2 separate regions of the Homo sapiens genome follow, and region 2 is linked to region 1. Evidence: fine-mapped expression QTL. Tissue or cell type: visceral fat. Region 1 holds a variant in brackets; the other region holds the start of a gene. All regions are shown on one strand. Distances are from middle to middle.

Region 1 (10,171 bases):
TTTCCTCAGATACTAAGAAAACACCCTTAAACACTTACATAATAATTCACTGAGAATTCCCTTATTGTATGATATATTCAAGACATCAATTGTCAATTCAATAAACACATGAAAGGGCATATTTGTAAGTAATATACATAAAAATCCTGCATAAGAATGCAGTGAAAGAACATTAACTATAAATTATATTTTGAGTTGACAAGGGAAAAATAAAGACTTAGAGACATCATGAAAATTCACCTGAGTTGGTTGCTAGTTAAGGCAGAGAAACCCTCACCCAACAAAGAAGGCTTAGTCCCTGTGAGATGGGGTTTTCAGGAAAAGGAGCTAGTACAGGATTTTTATAAAGCCAAAAACCTAAACAACTGTAAGTGAAATTACTAGTGGATTTCAATGAAGTTGTATGATTGGCTGAGTCCAGATGGCCCAGGTAAGTCATACACTGCAATCGCAATGTAACCATCAGACTATTTCTCTGAACAGACTAGTTTTCTAAGAAGAGCACCTGTATTCTTCCTGCTGAAGTCGTGACTACTTTCCATCTGGCAGTACCATGTAATTCCAGGCTACGGGCTCTCAACAGTTCTAATTCCAGACTTTCTCACCTTATGTACTCTAATGAATATATTCCATATTGTAAGTGAAAGTTACAATATCATGTTAAGAATACTTAATAAATACAAACAACACTTAGCAAAATAAACTCACAAGGCAAAAAAATGACTACTTGCCAATGAAAGACTATGTGAGTGAAATTTGCGGATGAGGAAATGAAGATGAAAACTTGTAGCTATTTATTTTAGTGGGGTTGGCGTGAGTGAGAATTATTTGGTGAAAGAATGAAACATTTCATGTCCAAGACTTGGCCTGGTCTAAGTCCAAAGAATTAGAAGATGGCCTTCAGTTCTTAGCATTTAAAATTCCAGAAGTGGATGGAGATATTATGTGAGGCTAAACACAAAGTAATGGGATCAGAAAAAACAAAACGAAACAAAATCCAAATAAACATGTTTAAGTACCACTTGCTTGTGGTTATACAGTGTCTGATAACATGAGATAAGATTTGTAACTGTGTGTATTTTGCTACCTTTTGTTGAAGTATATACAGAAAAGTATACAGAATATAATTTTATTGCCTAATACATTTCACAAACTAAGCACCTTCAAAAACCAATGTCTAGATCTAGGAAGGAAACATTACTCACACTCCCATTAAGAAACAGAAACATACCTGCACATCCCCAAGCTAGAAGTACTCCTAGTTAGTGCCTAACCCATCACTAACTCTAAAGAGGGCAAGCCCTATCTGATTTTGTAATTAAAATGAATGCTGCTATTCATTCATATCATGAAGGTTTGCATAGCAATCACTTTTAGAGTGATCTAAACAATAATAAAACAAGCTAATCATGTGAAGGCTGTATAAAAACGTTTCAGTCACATGACCAAGCTTCAGAAGAGACTCTAGGGTTTGCGCATGTTCAGGAAATTAAGGACAAAGAAAACAGACCCGGGTGAATTAAGGGGATGAGATACGAGAGAAACAGAGATGTGTCTAGAGGTCAGGCCACCTAGCACTTTATGGGCCAAGCAAAGACTTCCTGAGATTCATGTTAAGAACTCTGCCTCTGGGCTCATTCTATTATTTTGAGCGGGGTGGTAATGGAGGGGTTTTTTTATGATATTGTCTCTTAAACTTTTTTTCTTAACATATCAATATATTTGGCATACAGAGGAAATTGAAAGCTGATGAAATCGCTATGTTATTTTAAAGGTTCCTTTTTTCTCTTCCTTTGCCTATGACTTTTTAAAAGATAGGACTTATTGCATTCTCTTTTATCTATTCTCATTTTTATTTATTTGGGTTTATTTTGTAGATTTAGAGAAACAGAGGTAGTGTTCTCAAGCATCATGCCCCCCTCTTACTATGAAGGTTCCAGTTATTTTTTGAATGAGAAATAAATATATGAATCAAAACCATCTAAATCATTATTGCCTCCCTGTGAATTTTTCAATGGTTAATTTCAAAATAAGTTATATAATTGAACATATTTTTCTAAATGCAGACACACCTCTTACTGCTGAAAAAGCCAAAAAAAAAAAAAAAAAAAAAAGAATTTTCTAGCCAACAAATGTCAAAGTATGCTGAAACAGAAGTTGAGGTTAACTAGGTTATTTCTTGGGCAAATTTCTACATAAAAACTGAATTAAGGAGAGGAAAAGTGTTGCGATAAGAAAAATGGATGTTGACAATTGGCATGAAAACACACAAAGCCACTGCAGGGGAGAAGCAGAAGCTGTGTCAAATTTACTTTCATGTTTGTATTTGTTTACATAAATCCAAGGAAAGAGATAGCGCATGTTTCACTAGAACTCTCACCTTTGTGGTCTGCACAATAATTAACTAGTGTGAAAAGTAGGAAAAATATGTGTGTATGTAATCAATAAAAACTATATTACTGCGGTGGGAGTTTATAGGAGACAAAAAAATGTGAAGCTCAACCTATCCATTACTTTCTAAACTTAACAACTCTAATAAGCAACAGGAGAAAGGTAGAGAGTTGGACAGTTTGATTTGCTTATGTTGTAACAATAAAATATAACAGCATTGAGTTTTTACTCTATAAAATATTACAAATATATGCCTGACCACATTACTGCATCAGATTTCTCTTAACCAATACATGAGCTCTTCCCAGTCTCTGATCATCTTTCTATACCCAATGCTAGCCTAGATTTAGAGAGAAAGACAGGAGCTGAATGAAATGTCAAGGAGGCCAAGGCAGCTAGCAATGTCAGGGCAGAGTACAAGAGAGGAGAGGGCCTTACAGAGAGAGCTCTGGAGAGCAACAGAGTACTCCCCCAGGTCTTCCGTTGAGAACTGGTCAGCAGGATTGCTCAGCAAATTGGTTGTTTCTAAACCACTCTCTTAACCACTGTGAGGTTAACCCACAGAAATACAGAGCAGAGCTAAGGTCTTTCATCTGCATTTAGATACTCTAGTCCCTCTTTTTATTTCCCGATTAAGTAAGCATTATTATGAATTACTTTTCACCAGTTCAGATTTTAAACTTGCTATCTTTTAGAAGAAACCTCCAGCACCCGGTGTTCATCAGAGGGTCACTGGAACCCAGAAAATTAGACCTTCTCTTTTTCATCAGTGCTGCACAATGAATAAAATAGAAATAGAGTATATAGGCAGACCCATCCACACTAGACTAGCCTTTTTTGTCATCTAGTAAAACTCTGTGTCCTCAAATATATTAAAAATAAGCATAGAATTGCATAGCTACATCATCAGTTTATTAATAAATTTAAAAAAACAAATCATTTACTTTAAATTTTCACTATTGATATCTCTTGTAAATGAAGAGTAAAACCAGACGGTTTTTTTTTTTATTTTAAGGACAATTATATCGAATAATCAGAGAGTCAAAAAAGATTTCATAGAAAGAACAACAAACAGATTTGAAAAGACTGGCTTATAGTAAAAGTTTTGCCAAATTCTATCATCGGAGTCATAATTTCTCTTGTTTGAAATTCCTCACTTGTAAAAAATACGCGTGCAAGAATAATCTAAAAGATTCAGCATTATAATCTCATGAGTTTTAAGCTATCTGAAACAATTTTCAAGAGACAAATCTAACATGTAGTCTCAGAGTTTTCAGTATTTACTTTCACCAGATACCTTATTTTAAAAATGTTCTTATTTCTTGACCTTTTCCTTCAGATAAATTGTATTAGATTAACACAAATCATTTTATTGAAAAATGTCTACAACTACTCCAAACTTAGACATTGATCTAAAGGAAAAATGAATTTGGAATCATTTAAGATATTTTACAAACTTACCATTTAGTTTTGTCTTTTTCTCGACTTCTAAATTATCTGACTTTCTGGAAACCACATCTGTCAGTTTTATAAACATAGGAAGGAAGACTTTTATTATGATTAGGCAGTTACGCCTTCCCCATGAGGTAATCTCAAAAAACATCTACTCTCATGAAAGTAAAAGTTCAAAGAGATCTGGAAAATTTTCTGATAAACATCCTCTGTATTTCATGTTTTAATCATGATGCAGCTTTTATGCTTGGTAATTATTCAGACAATTCTAATGACAGAATCACGGGTTTGTATAATACAGAGATAAATAAAAGTTTTCACAGATTAGCCCATGAACCACCCCCCCAACAGGAAAACATTCAGATTTGTTCCACCCTATGAAAATGCATGCAGGCATCATCAACTCTTCCAGCCTACGCAAGCCATGAATATTCCAGCAAGGAGATGTAAAGCCCTCCTCTCCCCCAGTAGCCCATTTACCACACAATCACATATGTGTGAATAATAATATAATCTCTTAAACTCTATCCCATCAATATCTTTAAACACTTTGAATCTAAGATTAGAAAGTCCTGAGATTTTCACTTACAGTGAAAATGTCTTCTTACTAAATAACACAAATCCATCTACTTTTAGAGGATTAAAAAAAAAAGTTTGCTGTTTTTTTAAGAGATTTCTACTATATTCTTTTAAAATTTCTATTTTCTTCTTTCATTATTTACCTGTTTCTTCCCTAAAATTCCTTCCCATTGACAATTTCTTTCTTAAAATATCAACGTAAGAACGTACACGTAGAGTAAGAGGGTGAACCAATCCATGTCTGGGGGCCCAAACTCTGTTCATTAATTTATATCTGAGGGCAAACTTCCCTCAGGCCAAAGGCATTAACCTTGGGTGAGACCTTAACACCTTTCTACTCCCTTCACCTGGCATGCCTTCTTTTGCCACCACTGCTGGTAGTGAGGCCAACAGGGCTCAATTTTGGACCTGAAGTTGGAAGGATCCCCTGCTAACTTTTTGAAGCGTGAGGCAGATATAATATCAACAATCTGTGGGACACTATTGAAGAATGCAATATTGTAAATGACAATTAAACACTCAACTTAGCCTGCAAATATCCATCTAGCTAATAGTGGTACTTAAAGGTGAGAACATAAGACATTTAAATAGGCTTTACCTCTACTGAGTAATAACATGAATTTCAAGGTCTGGCAGGCTTGGTTTCAAATAAGGATTCTTTCTGGTTTTCTGACTTCAGGCAAGACACTAAATATCTATAAGTCTTGGCTCCTAATTTATGAAATGAGTGTAACAACTGTATCCTCTTCACTGGGAGGGATAAATGAGATAATGTATGTTGAACATATAATATTTAGCATAACTTCTCAGAAAATGCTAGTTATTAGTATCACTATTTATAGGTACATGAAGTTCAGTTCATGAAGTCAGATAGTGTGTCCCCAGTAGTAAA[G/T]AGGACACAGAGCATTACACATAGTATGTGCTTCATAGGTATGTGCTGAATTTAAATGACTGTATTCTAATCACTGTTTCTTAAATTATTGTCATGAAAATTCTATTTCATATTCAAAATAAACTTACAAATCAAACTCTGATTTCCAATTTATGAATACACTGCGTAGACTATGGTATTTTCATGTTTCCTTAATATTCTGATAGGACATCAACATTACAAAATACTATCTATGTATGCGTATGTCCCTTCAACCACACACTTGTTTTGTTACAAGATCAATCAGTGGTATGGAGAATAAAAGTTTGGTGTTTCACATGAAGAACATATAATAACATTAAAAAGCAAGAAATAAAGAATGGGTAGAAAGAAATACTTCTCTGCATAAAGCTGAATTAGTGCCTGTAACTAGTTCCCAAAATAAATTATTGAAGCAAATAGTTTACTGTGATTCCAAAAAGCATTAGGCTTAATGAGGCAAAAGTTTGAAAGCGGCTTGCAAATTTACACCTATGGATTTTTCAAAGGAAAATAAGATTTGCCTAAGAAAGTGCTTATTTTGGCAGGCAGAGAAAACAGTGGTGAAAAATTATGGGTTTGTCTCAAAAGCTAAGTTGATTTTGCCTTTTTAAACTGGCTTCAATTAGTTCCATATTTTAAATTTGGTACTGGAAACAAGCTGAGACATTGGTGGACAGAAATAGAAATGGCCACTGCTCTGTAAGCAAAGAACCAGAAATTTCGAATAAATTCTGAGATGATATAAATCTCAGAATTCTCAAATGAATAAATTCTCACCTATTTTGCAAAGAAAGAATTTAGAAAACAGCAGGCAAATAAACCAATATTTATATATCCTACACAAAGGAACATTCAAATGAGGTCAGATTCAGCCCACTGCTTTCTACAGGACAACGAGCTCCACAGTGATGGTTGGTAACTTGCCACTGGCAAGAATCACTACATTTTGGAGTGCTTAACACAAAGTGTTGGGCATCATATTATGTATTTTGCATACATGATTATATTAATTTTTACAAACTTAAGAGGCAACTGTTTGCCCTTTTTTATTTCTTACCAGATGAGGAAGCTAAAATTTAAAGTCAAATTATCTAATGCCATACAGCTACTAGAGAAAAGCAAAAATAAAACTAAGTAATCTGACCTCAAAGACTATTCATTTTATCACTCTTAAGAACCTACAGAGCAATCATCAAAGAAAGATATCTTTTGGTATACTATTATTAACAATTTCCTTTTACATTATTTTTAGAGTATGAATCCTATTGTCCATGACAAATTAATATAAAAACTTTCTAAATATATATGAGTTTAACATATAATGATCACAAAAAATCTTATCTGTGTACCTAAATATAAGTTGTTTTGTAATGTGGACCTTAATCACAGGAGCCCGCTGCCAATTTCCTTGCCAGTACATTATTTCATGTTCTTCAGGCCTGATAGAATATTAAGGGTCAAAGAAATGTCTGAGAGTGTCAACCTTCTGATTTTTAGCCCTGGTGACCTATTTGTTTGTTATTATTATTAAACTTTCAGAAGAAAAATGAAATTTCTTTTTGCCAATGTTGTCTTCTCCCTCATGATATTGTGAAGTCATCTACCCAAGGGAATTAATGGGAAATTAGCTTTAATAACTACAATAGAATCTGCCTTTCACTAGGCACTCACTGTGTATCAGGGACTTTATGTATATTATCTCATATACTCATAGTAACTTTACATATTTTAATCTCTCATTTGGTAAATATGGAAATATTTCAAGTTAAGTGATTTGCTTAAATACATACATCCAGGGTGTCTGATTTAAAAAATAAAACCAGATCTGTGGGACTTCAAAATCGAGTGTCTACCATTATCCCAAATTACTTCTTACATACCAATTAGAGTTGATTTTCTGCTTCTAAACTGACATTATGTGTATTTAGACAAATGGAAATAACAAGGTTCATTTAAACACAAGAACCAACAGAACATATTAAAATCAAAAGTATGAGCTTCACAAAGCCCAAATATTATTACCACCATCATTTTAGTGCTAAATAAAATGTTAAACTTTGGTATTAATATTAATAAAATATTCAGCATGATTTATATAGTGTTCAAGACTGTGAGTTCACATTGAGCTTTTCTATTACTCCAGCAACAACCATAAAGCAGGTAACAACCACCATTTTACAATAAAGTCTAAAAATAATTAATAATTCTTGTATGACTACGCCAAATTGGTTAAGGAGCAGAGCCCAAACATAAACTTAAGTATTATCACTTCAGATTCACTGGTTGAAATAATCATGCTTTGTGATTCTTCCGTAAAATACATTAGTAGACTTTATGCAACATTAGTGAACAATTTCAGTGTGAGCTTTAGATCCAATAGATCTTGGCTCTAACTTTGGTTGTGGTATTTTATAGAAAAATTAATGTGGGAAAATCATTTAATCTTTCTGGGACTGTTTCCTCATCTGTAAATGGCAAGTTAATAACAACTATGAAATAGGGTTGTTTTGAGGAGTAATCACAAAAGAACCCTAGAATGGTTTTTGACAATACATAAATTTTTCACCACTAGTTTCTCTATTCCAAAATTTATAACAGACATTTTCTGGTGGAAAACAAAACAAAAGTGTTTTCTATAATTTAGATTACTATTAGGTACAAGATACAAACAAAATAAAAGTAAACTTTTAATGCACTAGTTTGTTCCTTAACTCTTACAATCTTTTCACTTTTCATTTATTTTCAATTTTCCTTCTGGTTCTCATTAATTTGGATTAATTATAATAATTTCTGTTCTCATTATTACCATTAGAAACACAACACGTTGTGTCAAAGTCAGTAATCTTTATTCTTTAGATTTGACCAAGAGTCACGATCCTGGATTTAGAAGGCAGCATAACCGTCTTCAGATGGTGCTCATGCCACAGCTTCCATGGCTTCCATATTTACTCCTTTGTCTTGATAAGAGTGGAAAATTGATTTTTATTATAGAGCTTAATAGATGTAACATTGAAGTTACATGGAAAGTCAATTTATGTAGTAACTAAGGGTTATTTAATCTCGGCCTTTTGGCACATCATTCAGTAGGAAGAGGCCTACAGCCCCAGATTATCCTGACTTGACTCCTTGTATTTTCACTAGTCCTTGTTCCATATCCACCAGCTGATTATGGCATGCTCAGAAACCACAATTTAGACATGATAATTTTCTATGTAAAAATCTTCAGGTCTCCCCATTTCCATTAGAAGAAAAATGGTCCATATTCTTTAGCACAAGTAAAGTCTCTTATGATCTGACCCTCAAGTACTCTCTTATTCCATCACTGTCAAATACACAACTTATGTGGAGGCCAGATTTAAATGCTGCTGTTACCAGAGCTTGCCTAGGATTTATTTATAATCCCATCTGATAAGCCCCTTCCTCCTTTCATATTAAAATTCTCTTTAATTTTCCTGGCAAAGATTAACTGTTAATTCCTTCAAGGAAAGTCCACTGATAATTTTTCCCTTCTCCTAATACCCGCAATACTTCATTTATAATGTTTATCTCATACATTTACCTCACACATTGGATGATATGTGTGAGAAGCATTATACGCTGTTCTAAGTTATGAGTTCCTTGGAAGCTTAACTTTGCTTTATCTATTTCTATGGCTACCTCAATGCCAAATATAGTAATTATTTAATAGCTGTTAAAGCATTATCCAGTTATCTAGGCTATAAAAAAGAAAAAAACCTGGGAGAGAAAGATAGCTACAATTACCTCCTCAGAAAAGCAAATACCAGTGTCCATTATAGAGGGGTAAGAAAAAAAACAAGATTTTGTTCATTATGGTCTTTAGATTCATTCGGGCATGTGAACACAAATGCTTTTTCCAGCAGTGCATGATTAACCCAGAAACCAGAGCGGCATCCTGGCAGCAAAGGCGTTCCGTTTTTTATGACCCACTTTTCTATCTTGTCATGCATCCTTCATTATGTTCAACATTCTTGTCAGCAAAGATCATCAATGCATGGGCTGCAGTTGAAGTTGAAGCCCATCCTATATTTTTTTCACCTCTCCATCTTACTCAAAAATAATTCAGTGGAAGGGGCATCACTTATACCTTTGAGGTTACAGATGTATCACTACTGAAACAAATGCTAAGGACAAAGATACAGAGGCTAGCACAGCAAGTCACTGCTATTGCACCATCTTGAAGGAAAATCTGGGGTTTCTAGGTAACAATGTGTATGATTTGCCTTTCAGTTTTTTGTTTGTTCATTTTTTTACCTCCACATGGTAGTTTAAATTGTCGATTTCTCAAAAGCGTTTGAGATATTTGTAGTTAAAAAAAAATCATTTATAGTGGACAATGGTGAGGGTGGCAAAAGGAAGCAGAATGTATACCAGGAGATTAACAAACCGCATTTCTCTGTATTTAGCTAATCTGAACACTTAGACTGTAAAATATAGGATTTTCCTTAGATTATTTCTAAAGTCTAGATTTAAACAAATTAAATTCTCTAATGATGGTTTCTATATCTTTATCACAACACATTATTGCTCAACTGGGAAGAAATAAAAAAATAAAATGATAGCTTCAGAAATGTCTACTAATTATAACGGACTATTATAAGAGCTTTTTGTATATTTACTCATGTAAACTTCACAACAACCCTATTAGGTAAGTTCATTGTTATTCCATTTCACAGATTCAAAAACTGAAGTACAGTGTAATTTATCCAGGTTCACATTTGGGCAAGGGCTAGGATACAAAACGTGACTCCATAGTAGAAAGTGCTCCAAAGCTTTGCTACTGAAAGTGTGGCTCACAGTCTGGAAGCATCAGCATCA
Region 2 (10,171 bases), 30 kb after region 1:
TTCACAAATTTCCAAATAATTTTTCAATATGTTTATTGCAAAATATCAAGGTAAAAGTGTACAAACACAGTACAAACTCATGTTATTCAAGGATCAACGGTAATGTCAGTTCTAACACAAAAAGTTGTATTTATGTAATAAATATTTATTATACAGACACCTCTTTAAGTACATGGGTTTAACAGTGAAGGAGATAATCTCTGTTTGCAATTTAATAGTTTAACATTTAACTACAGAGATGTGAATATGTTGTCATATTGCAAAGTAATAAATGCTCTCATAGGAGTGAAAGCAGGGCTTAGGGAGGTAAGTGACAATCACTGGACTTTGCCTTAGACAATCATGAAAACCTTTCTTGAAGTTTCAGCTGAGATCTGAACTAAACCCTTGAGTTTGGCAGCACGGAGAGTAGCTTTGGAGGGAACAGGCAGGAAAAGATCTAGACAGAACAATGTGTTATCTTGTAGTAGGAATATAAAAATTAAACAATGTCCTGATATTCTGGGAATTACCAGGATAAAAACTAGATTAAAGAGACTCAAAACTGTCATTTTCACATGGGAACAGAGATAAACATATACGTGACGTTCTCCCATGGGTATAACCGTCATGTAGGTGAGGTTTGTAGTGAGTTGAGGTCAAGTTTCATTTCTTAGATTATATTTAAACTGCCACCTGAAGCAACAACAACAGAGGTCAACAGAGAATATTAGTCAGGTGTGGTAGTGCACACCTGTAGTCTTAGCTATTTGAGAGGCTGAGGTGGGAGGATTGCTTGAGCCCAGAAATTTGAGGTTAAAGTGAACTATGATCACACCACTGCACTACAGACTGGATGATGCAGTGAGACCCTGTCTCTCTCTTTTTTTTTTTTTTTTTTTTTTTTTTTTTGAGATGGAGTCTTACTCTGTCGCCAGGCTAGAGTGCAGTGGCATGATCTTGGCTCAGTGCAACCTCCCCCTCCCAGATTCAAGCAATTCCCCTGCCTTAGTCTCCTGAGAGTAGCTGGGACTACAGACATGTGCCACCATGCCCAGCTAATTTTTTGTATTTGAATAGAGACAGGTTTTCACCATGTTGGGCAGTATGATCTCCATCTCCTGACCTGGTGATCTGCCTGCCTCAGCCTCCCAAAGGGCTGGGATTACAGGCGTGAGCCACTACACCCGACAATCTCTGTCTCTTAAAAAAAAATTGGAGCTCAACTCTTCAACAAGGACATAAAAACATAAAATCTTTATAACAGACAGGGAAATAACTTTCCTGCAGACTCAAAAATTTGGCAAGTGAAATAGGGCTTACATTAAAAATAATGGAGGCCAATGAACACAAACGTCAATTTATTATATTCTTTCTTCTTTATCACATGTAAATACTTATTTCTTAAATCAACATCTATTTCCTGCAAGATACTTGGCTAGGCAAAAGATTTTTAATGAGCAAAATGACATCAATTTTCCAAAGAAACAGATGAAGAAAACAATATTTTCCATGACACGTCACAACTTCTGCAACAAAAGAGGACACAGGAGATAGATGAGAACAAGGACTCAAGTGGCCCACTTGAGACAGAGAGGAGTTTTGAAGCTACTGAGAAGAGTTTTACACTAACTTTCTTAAATAATGCTTAGGAATTGCCAGTGGGTCAGCTGGGCTGTGAACTTCAGGCCAGGGAAGGTCACAGGCAAACACATACAGTAGGGGCTCCAACCCCTGGGCCACAGACGGGTATCAGTCTGAGGCCTGTTGAGAACTGGGCTTCACATCAGGAGGTGAGCGGCTAGCAAGTGGACAAAGCTTCATCTATATTTACAGCCACTCTCCATCACTGGCATTACCTCCTGAGCTCTAACTCCTGTCAGATCAGCAGCAGCACTGGATTCTATTAAGAGCAAATACAAACCCTATTTGAAGTGCACATGTGAGGGAGCTAGGTTGCGAGCTCCTTATGAGAATCTAGTGCCTGATGATCTGTCACTATCTCCCATCACCCCCGGATGTGACCATCTGATTGCAGGAAAACAAGTTCAGGGCTCCCACTGATTCTACTTCACGGTGAATTGCATAATTATTTCACTATATATTACAATGTAATAGAAATAAAGTGCTCAACAAATGTAATGCACTTGAATCATCCTGAAACAATTTCCCCCCACCCCAGTCTATGGAAAAATTGTCTTCTACAAACCCAGTCACTGGTGCCAAAAAGGTTGGGGACCACTGACACAGAGGCATGAGAAGGCAGATTGTCCAGGATCACTCAAGTGTAGTGGAAGAATTTAAACAGAGTAATCCAGAGGGCAAATAGAAGTTCAGGTTCAGGCCCCTAATGGTCCACCGCAGAATACAGTGACAGCTTACTAAGGCAGTGACAACTGGGACGGAAAGGAGAGAATACATGAGATGTTTAGAAGGTAGAATTAACACAAATTGTTGAAATTGAGCAATGGTGAAAATAAACCCTCACCCGTAATTCAGGACTCGCTCATATTAACTATGAATACATTCATGAAGAAAATTGAATAATGTATTTGAAATAACTGTGCCATCAGGACATATGGCTACTGTAAACCAAAAATTACCTCTGACTTAAATGGCCACTAATTATGTGGCACAACTTCTTTTTCAAGAACTGAGAAGGGATGAAAACACACACGCACACACACACACACACACACAAGCAAATTACAATGAAAAGAGGTACATGTTGGGGTGGAAGGAACAGTAAAATCCTTTGAACCATTCAAATACCTACATGATTTTATAAACCACCTTCCCGTATACTATTTGGTGAATTATCATTAAAAATCTCAAGCAAATCAGGCAGGAACATCATGAAAAAGTCAAATGATTGCAGGTAAAGAAAATTGTTTTAAATAAATGTAGCTTCACTAAACAAAATCTGCTTAATAATTTTGGCTGAAAGCTGCAGATAATATGTAGCAATAGGAGCAGGGAACTTAACATCTCTGCCAAGCAAAAAGAAACAATTCAGCAAGCAACAGTGAACTGATATGCACTAAATAAACAACCAGGCAGAAACACCGCTGTGAGAAAGAGCTTTTTATATAGCTAAGCCAAGCTGGATGGCTTAGAGTTGGAGAAAGAAGTGCTAAATATGTAACAGCCTGGGGCCTCGCTGGACCCAAATAATAGTTATTTCTGAGTAGGTCAAGCAAAAGTCAATAAAAAGGAAAGCAGGAATGGCTGTTGGGTTCATAATAGGACAATAATGCCCTTCTGGGAAAAATGTGAGTTTCAAATAGCCAGAATCGAATACTTAAGTTTCAAATGCTTTATCATAGACCACCAGTTCTGGAAATATCAGTAGAATAGCTAGAAAATAGGTAAATTCTGCCAACCAGAATAATCCCTAATACAGATTCCCTAAGCCAGTGTTTTTAACATGAGTAGAAGAATCACCTGCAATGGAATTACAAGGAAGCTTATTTAGTGGAAATTCCTGGATACCAGCTCAGACTTACCACATCAGAATTTCTAAGGAAGAGGCCTGGTAATTTAATTTTTAATTAAATTTTCAAAAGATTCTTCTGTCTTCTAACACCAGAGAACTTTTATTTTTGCGTATTTTGCATTTTGCTTTGCTTTCAAATGCCATCGTTCACAGATTAGATTCGTCAGAGAGAGAAAGGGAGATAGAAAGGGAGGGAGGGAGATCCGATAGATATATAGCCAATTTCTGGCCCAATTTTTCTTTTGCAGCAAGCAAAGGCTAAAGTAACACTCTGTAACACTTTATAACACTTTATAACACTCTATAAAGCACTAATTAGAAAACAGGTTATTCTGAGATAAAAGAACGTACAGCGAACAATTACTTTATAATCAAGTGTCAGATTGTATGGAGCAGAACATGCCCACTGTATTAGTCTGTTCTCACACTGCTACAAAGATACTACCTGAGACTGGGCAATTTATAAAGAAAAGAGGTGTATTTGTCCGTTTTCACGCTGCTGATAAAGACATAACCCAGACTAGGCACTTTACAAAGGAAAGAAGTTTAATGGAGAACTCACAGTTCCACGTGGCTTAGGAAGCTTCACAATCATGGCAGAAGGCAAAGAGGAGCAAGTCACATCTTACGTGGACAGCGGCCAGAAAGAAAAAAAGAGCTTGTGCAGGCAAACTCCTGTTTATAAAGCCATCAGATTTTGTGAGCTTAGGAACAGCATAGGAAAGACCCTCCCACCGCGTCCCTCCCACAACACGTGGGAATTCAAGATGAGATTTCGGTGGGGACACAGCCAAACCACATCAAGAGGTTTAATTGACTCACAGTTCCGCATGGCTGGGAGGCTTCAGGAAACTTCCAATCATGGCAGAAGGCTAAGGGGAAGCAAGTCACATCTTAAATAGTGGCAGGAGAGAGACAGAGTGAAGAAGGAAGAGCCACTTTTAAAACCATCAGTTCTCCTGAGAACTCACTATCAAGAGAACAGCATAGGGGAACCACCCCCAGGATCCAATCACCTCCCATCAGGTTCCTTCCTTGATACATGGGGATTACAGTTCAAGATGAAAGCCTAACCATATCACCCACAAAGGTGAATCAGAAGCTGGACTTCTCTGTGATTTCTTCCATTCTTCAGTATTCCTGAATCCCTTCCAGTAAAGTTTCTATACAACAATCTATCAGTAAGGCATTATCATTTAACAAACCTTTTAAAAATTATACAGGAAAACATTTGTTGAAGAATTTGGGATAGTATCATCTATAAAAATTTACTTAAGATGATTTTTTTTCCTTTGCTGGTAGGAGAGAAAGCAAGATAATAAATGCACTTAGTAGAATATCATAGTAAACAAATTGTTTAAAGATATATACTTTACTCTCCCGTAAGACTATGCATCTCTTGTACAGACATCCTGGTGAGAAAGTGGAACCCTAAATGGAACACTGAGCTTCAGGCATTTTTATTGGACCTCCGAGGAAAGGTACAGGCAAGTGGGGTCAGGTGTCTGGGATGATTGCAGTTGTCAGTTAAACTCTTGATATAGTTTGGCTGTGTCCCCACCGAAATCTCATCTTGAATTCCCACATGTTGTGGGAGGGACCCGGTGGGAGGTAACTGAATCATGGCGGCAGGTCTTTCTTGTGCTGTTCTCATGATAGTAAGTCTCACAAGATCTGATGGTTTTAAAAACAGAATTTATAAACTTGTGAATATATGGGTATGATGCAAACCCTAAAATCATAAATTCATCTAATAATTGTGATATCTATCTCTATAAGGCATGTATTGAGGGTGAAATTGAACCTGAAGATTTGTTAAATGAAACTATGAAATAAGTTTGTAAAGACATATGCATACTTCACCAACCTGCTCAAATTTAGATCGGCAAACCCTTTCCTCTTGATGGGAATGAATGAATGAAATCTGAATTATGGTCTGCTATTTCTTCTACCAAAAGCCATAAGCTTGAGCCAATAGGTGTGTAATAATTTTCAATGCTATTATTAACAGTGTTTATTTAGTTAATGCTCCTGATGAAATAACAATTTTTGATCTAGATTCTTTAGAGAGTGTTATTTAGAAATTAAGTTTCAAAATTCAAAAATTATTTTAAAAAAGAGTAAACTAGCAGACTCATCTCTTAAATATTAGAGTCACTTCTACATCCCAAACTCTAACCACCCAGCCAAATTTATTACTAATGGGTAGGTACAGAGGGTGTTTAAGAAAAAGATATAGATTACAGCTTTGCTTTATTCTATTTGAAAATTACTCAGCTTTGTGCCCAGCTGAACTCACTAAATTTCAGCTGTACCCAACATAGAATGTGAGGTGGATTCAGTTCTGTCCCACAGCTGACCAGCAACTACAGAAAGATTGAAGCCACTGACCTCAGGGTATGACTATAACCTCGGGGACAATAAGTAAGCAGGTAGTCCCCAGGTTGGGGCCAGACTTAAATGCTCCCATCAGAACTTCCTTGAAGAGCATAAATGTCCTATTAGTATATTTTATTTCTTTGAGATTTGTTATAGTGAAACTTTAGTAGCAAAAACATTCAAAAATATTTATGACTTAGAAAATACTTTGACTCACATTTTCCTCACCAATTTGGTTGTAATTTGGATAAAATATGAAACAGTCCCTTTTTACTTCTAAAGAAAAAAGAATGGAGAATTTTCCACAAAGAGTTACCAGTGATAACCACCTTTGTGAATTAACTATAAAAAAGAAATACCAACATTATGAGTCCTGGGCAGACTATTCATCCTTCTTTTCCATCACTTTATCTCTCTAAGAAAAAAAACACAGTTACAGGTTAACTAGGAAAATCTATAATTTAAAAAAACCTTTTTTTTTTTTTTTTGTAGAGCTTTGTATCAAAGAGCAATTGCATTCCACCTATGTACCACAGTAATACTGGTCAACATCTGTTTTTTCCACATATCTCCTAAAAAGTTATGTGTAGTCTTCCTAAAAATTGTCTAACAAGCAGTACTGAAATAGTTGTTAAAGTATTATAACAAATAATGCTCCTTTTCTCTTCCAGGTACTCAAAAATCCTGATCCATAGGAAAAATCCACATCCAAATGCAAGGTTTGCTCAAGTTCATTTTCATTATAATGCAGGCACTTTATATCACTTCAGGGCTTCTACCAGGAGAAATATTAGAAATATTAAAATATTTATTTTTGTTCGTCTTCCTTTTTTGGTAACAGACCTCAGTACATTTGCAGAATGTCTTGTAGACCCAGAACATGCTGGGTGAAAACAACTTTTGCATATTTTTGCATGGCTAGTAAGAAGCCATTCTTTAAAAGCATATCACCTGTCAGCATTACTTTCCAGAAAATATTTTCAGTTCTGTGCAGCTGCATTTTACTTCCTCCATCCTTGGTATAAGTGTTCAACCAAGTGCATGCTTTGCACCTTCAAATGTATTTTTCCAGTTGCATCCTTGTTTTTATTTTTACATTCCAGGATGTAGCAATGTCAACTTCGGAGGATTTGGCTGATTCAGTAGTTGTAGTGTTTTTAGCTATTCCTGTCCACATTTTCACGTAGTCTCTAATGGAATTCTGCAGCATTCCAATTCAGCTCTTAAAAAGATCACCCTAATTTGAAGCAGATGTTAGGTTCACACCTGTGCCACAATGGTAGCTGAAACAGAGCTTATATTTTATACACATTTATGGAAACCATTTGGTCATTTGGCTTTATAACTAAGAAGATGTGTAGGATTTTTAAAAGTCGATTATTTTCATATATGGAATATGAAAAGTATTATTCCTCAAGAAATTTAAGACCATCAAATATAGGCTTATATATACATGCTTATTAGCCACGTAAGTTAGCCTATCCATTTAATCATCAAATAGGCATCATCGAGCACTCTTTAGGCACTGCAGGTACAAACTCTTCCATAAATGTTCTTATAGTTTTTCTTCAGTAGTTTTATAACTTTTATAGAAGCAACTTGATTTTTGCTAATAAACACATGAAACCACAGTATATATAAAATTAACAAAAGTGATACTATATTAGTATGAATTTGTTTTATAAATATAAACTTATGAAACTTTATAAAATTAATAACAATGACACAATCACTATTTTTTTGGTTTTGTATTATAAAGTCCCAATTCAGTCTCTATTGTATTTACTATAATTCAGTATCTATCATATATTTTAGTTGCATAATATTTTTTAAATCCAATTCATTCAGTAATTATTTGCAAAGGTTTGTAGTAATTTAACTACTCCTCATGCCAATTCAGTATACCCCTCATGTACACACAGATGGAAAGAAAAGTTTTATTCACATATGCACAGAAATGAGTTAATCTGGTAGAATGTGCTAAAGATTCTGTGGTATTCAATACATTAAAAATATAACACATTTGATCATATACAGTCCTGTGTCACTTAAGTACAGGGATACATTCTGAGGAATGCTTCATTAGGCCATTTCAGTGTTATCTGAACATTATAGAGTGTACTTAGACAAATCTAGATGATACAGCCTACTAGACACCTAGGGTATATGATATTGTCATCTATTGCTCCTTGGGTTATGAACATGTATATTATGTTACTGTACTAAATACTATAGGAAATTGTAACACAATAATAAATATTTGTGTATCTATACATAGAAAAGTAAAAATATTAAAATAGGTTAAAAGTGGTACATCTATAATTCACTTATTATGAATAGAGCTTGCAGGACTAGGAGCTGCTCTGGGTGAGTCAATGAATGAGTAGTGAGTGAATGTGAAGACCTGGGACATTATGTACACTCCTGTGGACTTTAGAAGCACTGCACACTTAGGCTACACCAGATTCATTTAAAAAACTCTTTTTTTCAATAATATATTAACCTTAGCTCCTTATTACTTTTTTTACTTTATAAACTTATTTTTAACTCTTTGACTCTTTTGGAAGAACACTTAAAGTAAGACAAATACATTGTACAGCTGTATAAAATACTTTTTCTTCATATTCTATAAACTTTTTTCTATTTAGCTGTTTTAGTATATGATTTTTGTTTAGTTTCTTACATATCACTTCATGCACATACAACTTTTTTCTTCAGGATCTTGTCCCCATTAAATGCTATCTTCCTTGGTAGCTTCCTTGTTGGTTTTTATTTTTGTTTTCTTTTCTCCGAGCCCAGTGACTTTGCTTGTTTTATTTTTGTTTTCTTTGCTCCGAGCCCAGTGGCTTGAACATATGTTCAAGCTGCTACTTTTCCTTCAGCATCTCTTTATTTTTGTTTTTATTTGTAAGTTTCCTGTGCAGAAAAACTGTGGTAAAAATGTACCTAAGTGCATTTTCTTTCTCTCCAAGATCTTAGTGTTTCTGACCAGAAACTTTTATTAATATATAATATCTTTGTTCTTGCCAACTTTTCTGATTTATAGTCTATTTTGTCTGATTTTGCATAGCCACCTCTGCTCTCTTTTGGTCATTATTTTTATGACCCAGCAATCCCATTACTGGATATATACCCAAAGGATTATAAATAATTCTACTATAAAGACACATGTACACGTATGTTTATTGCAGCACTCTTCACAATAGCAAAGACTTGGAACCAACCCAAATGCCCATCAATGTTAGACTAGTTAAAGAAAATGTGGCACACATACACCATGGAATACTATGCAGTCATTAAAAAGGATGAGTTCATGTCCTTTGCAGGGACATGGATGAACCATCATTCTCAGCAAACTAACACAAGAACAGAAAACCAAACACCACATGTTCTCACCCATAAGTGGGAATTGAGCAGTGAGAACACATGGACACAGAGAGGGGAACATCACACACTGTGGCCTGTCGGGGGATGGGGAGCTAGGGGAGGGATAGCACTAAGAGAAATACCTAATGTAGATGACTGGTTGATGGGTGCATCAAACCACCATGGCACATGTATACTATGTAACAAAACTGCATGTTCTGCACGTGTAACCCAGAAATTAAAATATAATTAATTTTTTTAAGTTTCAATATAGCAAAAAGATATGGAAATTATAAATATTTTCATACCTAATAACAGACTATAAATATATATAAAGCAAAACCTGACAAAGTTGAAGTAAGAAATAAAAAGTTACTCAGTAATAGTTTGAGCCTTCAATATCTCATTCTCTATTATCCATAGAAAAACAAGACAGAATATATGTAAAGAAACAGAGGACTTAACACAATAAACCAACTAGATCTAACAGACATGCACAGAACACTTAACTCAGCAACAACTACATGCATATACTTCTCAAGTGCCGATGAGACATTTTCCAGGCCGACCATGTTAGGCCACAAATTAAGTCTTAATAGATATAAAATATAGATGTTGTACAAAGTATCTTCTCTGTACACAATGAGATGAAGTTGGAAGTCAATAACACAAAGAAAATGGGAAAATGAACACATTTGTGGAACTTAAAAAACAAACTCCAAATCAGCCAGTGGATCAAAGAAAAAATAACAAGCAAAAGTTAGAAAATAATTAGAAATAAATTAAAACAAAAACACAATATGCCAATGCTTATGGGACACAGTGAAAGTAGTGCTAATTGGAAAAATATATAGCTATAAACATGTTTCAAATCAACAAAGATAAGAAATCAACTACCTAACTTAGCAACTTAAGGAACCAGAAAAAAAGAACAACTTAAAGCCAACTCTA

Which allele goes with the higher level. Alleles are on the strand shown, and positions count from the first base shown. SD is a standard deviation of normalised expression in the study named.
In carriers of allele T in region 1, the expression in visceral fat of the gene that starts at base 4,345 in region 2 tends to be lower than with G alone (moderate effect, 0.50 SD a copy in GTEx).

The links. PIP is the estimated chance that this variant, and not a neighbour inherited with it, causes the effect. A credible set is the group of variants that fine-mapping cannot tell apart.
Region 2: it holds the start of LINC02147, and the variant in region 1 is the best candidate, but not a certain one, in a credible set for the expression of LINC02147 in visceral fat (GTEx, PIP 0.72).

Annotation. Positions count from the first base shown.
Region 1 is chr5:117,754,094-117,764,264 of GRCh38, reverse strand. The region is part of intron 1 of LINC02147 (long intergenic non-protein coding RNA 2147); the gene reads right to left. Among named protein-coding and RNA genes, the nearest start is that of LINC02147, 29 kb to the right of the region's middle. The variant G/T (reference allele first, on the strand shown) is at 5,315.
Region 2 is chr5:117,724,535-117,734,705 of GRCh38, reverse strand. It overlaps LINC02147 (long intergenic non-protein coding RNA 2147), which reads right to left and starts at 4,345. Exons shown (of 3, transcript NR_104997.1): 1 at 4,298-4,345.